Regions from separate parts of the Homo sapiens genome. Here region 2 is linked to region 1. A link means that fine-mapping ties the variant in region 1 to the expression of a gene that starts in the linked region. Tissue or cell type: cerebellum. Region 1 holds a variant in brackets; the other region holds the start of a gene. All regions are shown on one strand. Distances are from middle to middle.

What was found. PIP is the estimated chance that this variant, and not a neighbour inherited with it, causes the effect.
Region 2: LRRC61 starts here. The variant in region 1 is fine-mapped to the expression of LRRC61 in cerebellum (GTEx, PIP 0.98).

What each region holds. Positions count from the first base shown.
Region 1 is chr7:150,048,033-150,050,711 of GRCh38, reverse strand. It overlaps a transcript of ACTR3C not described here. Among named protein-coding and RNA genes, the nearest start is that of ATP6V0E2, 180 kb to the right of the region's middle. RefSeq lists enhancers at 677-1,310, 1,311-1,945. The variant C/T (reference allele first, on the strand shown) is at 1,583.
Region 2 is chr7:150,322,159-150,324,837 of GRCh38, reverse strand. It overlaps LRRC61 (leucine rich repeat containing 61), which reads right to left and starts at 1,483. Exons shown (of 3, transcript NM_001142928.2): 1 at 1,278-1,483. ACTR3C (actin related protein 3C) reads left to right here and starts at 1,293. Exons shown (of 8, transcript NM_001164458.2): 1 at 1,293-1,369. RefSeq lists enhancers at 654-723, 2,044-2,103, 2,154-2,263 and a silencer at 1,114-1,433.

The DNA of each region.
Region 1 (2,679 bases):
GGAACATCCTCGTGTTCATCCATGCTGTTTCCAGTCCTCCCCAGCATTCCGGCTCCTTTCACACCTGCATCTTTCAGACGCTCGCTCTTTCCTGCCCTCCTCCCCTGCCCTCCGTTTCTTCTGCTTAATTGTGAGATTTGCTTCCCAGCACAAATTTTTATTTCAACTCTTTCCCCTGTTGCTTATGAGTTTTATGGTGATTTCATTTTATAATTTTAAGCAGAAATCGCTTATCATATTTTCTTAGATAATTTGAGATTTTAAACTTTGGTTAGATTATAGTTACCTACAATGCTTTGAGAATATAATTTTTAAAAGTGGCACATATGCTTTATCCCAATAGTATTCTATGATTAATATGCACACATCTATGAAGTATCATGTATGATACATAAACTATTCTGCATAAGTATTGTATTTTGTATAAACTATATTAGTATGACATTTAGTTTGTGTAAAAATATGCATGCATATTTCATAGATAGCATATGTATATTACATAAGTGGGACCCTAACTGCATCTATATTTAGTGAAATGTCAGGATCGCGATGCTGCGGTGAATAGCATGAGCTTTCTTTCATGTCCATGTTAGGAGAGGCAGCTTCCTCCCATCAAAAGCACAGCTGGGGCAGAGGAGGGGGTTGAGAGCAAGGTTTTCTATCTATCTAATTGTGGTGACTTTTAAAGTTTAGTTTTATGGCTCTGTTGCCTCTGTCTTCAAAGTCAAATGGAGCAGCTGAAGCTCTCCCCACCCCAGACCCACCTGCCTGGCCTCTCCCATGCAGCAAGTTTTGCTTAGCTGTTGCAATCCTGGTTTTACTTGGTTTTGTATTTGCTATTTTTTTAAAGTGTTTTTAAACTCATGTTTCTTCATAGTAAAGGGTAACTACTGTGGAGTAAACAGAAGATGAGCGTGGTACAAATTTTGGTTAAACCAAAAACTACACACTGGATTGAAAGCTTGGGGAAGGGAGGCAGGTGGAAGGGACTGAAGGGAGGTCTCTTCCCAGGAGACTTGTTCACCGGCATCCAGTATTCTCCCCCGCAGTTAGGGAAACAGAGGGAGCATGCAGTTTCAGGCCCAGGCAGGCCTCTCTCTGGGCTTGGGGCAATGCCAAGGCTGGGGGCGAGCCTGCAGTCAGCCTTGTGCGTGGCGGCCGAGCCTGTTATTTTGAAACCCTAAGTGGAAACAGGCATGGAAACCCGGAAGGAGCAGGGAGCCTTAGCAGTCCTGGGAGATGAAGCCAACGACCTACCTCCATGTGGAAGGAGGCGGCGGAATGGGCAGGGGCGGGTCTCACAGGTTCCCCCCTCTGGAGTTGGGGTTTCCCGGCCCACGTTCGCTCTCTGGATGTGATAGGTCCTTCCCGGCCGGGAAGGGCTGGAAGGGGCGCGCAAGGAGGACGTGGGGACGAGACGAGAGAGACGCGTGCCCAGCAACTCCAGAAGGACGGAGAAGAGTGCAGGAGGGAGCCGGGGAGGACGCGGGAGGGCCGGGAGGGGAAGAGAAGCCAGGCCGGGCCTGGAGCGGAGGAGCGGAGCCCGCTGGTGCGGGTGTCCACACAGGGGCGCTGGAGCGCG[C/T]CTTCCTGCGGCTGGGCAGGAGGCAAGCCCGAGAGCGCGCGGCGAGTGGAGCCATGTCGCCCTCCCTCGCTCTCGGCGGGCACAGTGAGGCGCAGGCTTTGGAAAAGTTGCGGGCAGCCGGAGAGCCGAGCCTCCGCCTGCGTTCATGATAATGAGAATGGAGTCACGGTCACAGCCGGGCTCTCTGCGGGGCGCAGCGCCCGCGAGGGGCGCCTGGGCCTCTGGGCGTCCTCTGCCGCCCCGCGACCTTTCCTGCTCTCCTCCGGAGAGAGGCGAAGGGAAGGGGCGGTTTCGGAGGGAGCTGGGCTGTGGAGGGAGGGCGGCCTCCTCACCAGCGTCGTCCGACCACCCCGCGCCCTCCTGGTGGCTCTCCCACGCCCCATTTGCACCCCAGGTCCTCGGGGTGTCTCTGGTGTTGCTTCAAGTTAGGCAAGAAGAGCTGGGGGCGCGGGGAGCCCGGCGCCGCAGCGCGTGCGTGGCTGGGGCGCCCCGGGGCCGGCTGCACCTTCAGTCGCCCCCTGGCCGGCCTGCCTGCCTCGACCTCCGCATCCCCTTGCACCGTCCGCTCGCGTGCTGCGGGGCACGCGCAGCACTACCTTCGGCGGGGCCGCAGAACCCTCAGCTCCCGGGACTCCCCCACCGCCCCCGCACCCACGACCCGCGTGGTCCCCGCCCCTCCACCCTCTTCACGCACCCTCGCACCCTTTTTGTGCGACCCCGTGCCCTCTCCGGGCTGCCAACCCCTGCCACCCAGGCGCCAGTCCCGGGCGCGGGGAGGAGGCCGGTGGGGAAGGGGGCGGAGGGGCCGGGGTGGAGGAGGAGCTGCGCGAGGGGCCTGGGGGCGGGGAGCGAGGAGAGCGCTCGGAATGTGTGCGGGTTTCTAGGTGGTGCCAAATTCTGGGGCCTAGGCATTTCCCTCGCTTTATGTTTTTGGTTTTTTTTCTTCCTTCAATCTCTTTGATTAGGCCGTACGTGGCTGTGGCAAGGAGTTGGGGAAAAAAATTATAAAAACAGGAAAGAGAGAAAGAACAGCCAGAGCCCCGGCTTCGCGAGCCGCCGGGGAGGGGGCGGAGGAGGCTGAGCCAGGTAGAGTCGCC
Region 2 (2,679 bases), 270 kb before region 1:
GAACCGGGAATGCTGGAGGTGGGGATGGGAGGGAAAAGGCTTGGCTCTGTCCCTAAACAGAGAGAAGGTGACCTGGGAAGAGCGGGGAGGCTAACTACACAGGGAAGAGAAGCTTCCTGGAGAAAGGGATCCAGGGCACAGGCGGTGGAAGGGATTGGCCTCAAGAGACCAGGAAGAACTCTCATTTTTCCTGACAGAGAAAGTAGGATGGGTCTGGTAGCAGGCAAGTCCTGGAGTGCTGTGCAGAAGGGAAGTGAGGCAGCTTATGCCTGAGAGCCAGGCATGTTGATTGCTCACGGGGAGCCGTACATCTGTAAAGGCAGCCAGCGGCTGGCTGAGTGATCTGGCTTAGCCTGGGCTGGGAAGCACCTCCGCACACTGGCTCAAGAAATTAGACCTATTCTTCTCGCTGCTCTCACCAAGCCTTTTCCCAAGTGCGTGCCCAGAAGGAAAGCGGCCACTCTTCTACTTCTCTTGTGCCTGCAAGAGAAGTAGAACCCCACCCTGGGCATTCCATGATTATGCCAGGCCTTTCTCACTCCGCCCAGTCCCTCTCCAGCCCCTCTGCTCTCAACTCCAGCACTGCAGGGGGACAGAGTGTCTACTCCACCCCCACCAGGCAGGGGATTTTAAGCACCTGCTGGGCCCTCAAGTCTCATCTTCCTCCACAACATCTGTGAGAAGATTGAAAGGTGGTGAGAGAAAGGGATAGGAGGAGATGAACGTGTGAAAGGAAAAGAGGAGAGCAAGCCATTGCATGTTTTGGGGTTTTGTCCCACACGCAAATTTGACTACTTATAAAGTCTAAGCAAGATGTTTTAAATAATAATCATGCATCATTAGGTTTCATACTGTGCAAAAAAAATGACACAAAGTGAGATCTGTTACAAACGACACGGCAGCACTCTGCTACTTTCTGGAAGCTTAGGGCTAACAATGGAGTCAGAGCATGGCATCCAGAGCCCGTCTCTGAGCACGGCCGTGATCCTGCTCCAGCACACGCCTCGGTTTCCTCGTCTACATTACGGGAATAGTAACAGCACCCGCCTCATGAGATTGTTAGTGTTAAACGAGTTAATTAATACCACAGTATTTCAGGGCAGTTCTCGGCACAGAGGGAGAGATGGGTAAGGGCTGGCTGTTCCGGAAGATTCTGGCCTCTCCCAGTGTGTTTCGGCGCGAGGGCACCGCTGGCCCAGCAGGTGGCCCCCCGGGGCCGGCACGGGCCCCGACAGCCGCCCCCTTCCCTGAACCTCGGCGGCCCAGTCCCCGCTTACCTGAGGGGTGGAGCCGGCAGCCTGCGGAGCCACTGGCCAAGCTGGGAAGTCCGGCGCAACTCCGCACCGCAGAGCCGGCGCCTCCTCGGCAGGTAAGAGCCGCAGCCCCGCCGCCCGCCGCCTGGCGGCCCCTGACCCCTGGGCCGCGTGCCCACCACCCAACTTGTTGGCCAGCGTGCTTCTCCCAGCGCCGCAGGCCTGAGCTCCCGGAACGCGCCCAGGGGGCCTGGCCAAAGGCCGTAGTGGGCGCTCTGGATTCCGGGATGCGCCAGGGGTTACTTCCGGAAGCGCAGCCTGCGGGGGTCTTCGCGCGCACCCCCCGCCTCGCAGTTGGTACGTTCCTCCTACCTGCGGTGCCTGAGTGCGCAGGCGTGGGCAGCGAGGCGGTGCGGCCGGAAGCGAAGGGGCCGTGAGGTCAACAGTCGGTAATCGTTTATCGGTGCGGCCTTAGAGAAAGGACCTCCAAGCCCTTGTTCAATACATGTTGGGTGGTGGTCACAGGTGCCAGTCTCCGGACGGATGGCGGCCTAGATTTCCTCCCGGACTCGGTGGCACCCAAGGCCCCCTGCACGCCGGCGCTGTGCGTGCCAGGCTGACCGCCCGAGTGCGACCCGGACCTCGTCCGCACGTGCAGATGGAAGGGGCCACAAAGACGATAAGGATCCAGGTCTCCCGCGTGGAAGGCTCATCTATCGGTCGGTTCAGGAAATCCACCCAGGGTGTCTCCTGGTGTTATCAGAAAGGGGTCCCGATCCAGGCCCTAAGAGAGGGTTCTTGGATCTCATGCAAGAAAGAATTCAGGGCAAGCCCATAGAGTAAAGTGAAAACAAGTTTATTAAGAAAGCAAAGAAGTAAAAGGATGGCTACTCCATAGGCAGAGCAGCTCCAGGGCTACTGGTTACCCATTTTTTGGTTATTTCTTGATTATATGCTAAACAAGGGTTGAATTATTCATGAGTTTCAGAGAAAGGGGTGGGCAGTTCCCGGAACTGAGGCTTCCTCCCCTTTTTAGACCATATAGAGTATTTCATGATGGTGTCATGGCGTCTGTAAACTGTCATGGTGCTTGCTGGTGGGAGTGTCTTTTAGCATGCTAATGCATTATAATTAGTGCATAATGAGCAGTGAGGACCACCAGAGGTCCCTCCCATTGCCATATTGGTTTTGGTGGCGTTTAGCCAGCTTCTTTACTGCAACCTGTTTTATCAGCAAGGTCTGTATGACCTGTATCTTGTGCCAACCTTCTGTCTCATCCTGTGACTTAGAATGCCTAACCTCCTATGAATGCAGCCTCATTTTACCCAGCCCTTATTCAAGATGGAGTAATTCTGGCTTAAACACCTCTGACACTGGGGCAAATGCCTGCTGCCTGATGACTCCCACAAGTCCTTAACACCTAACC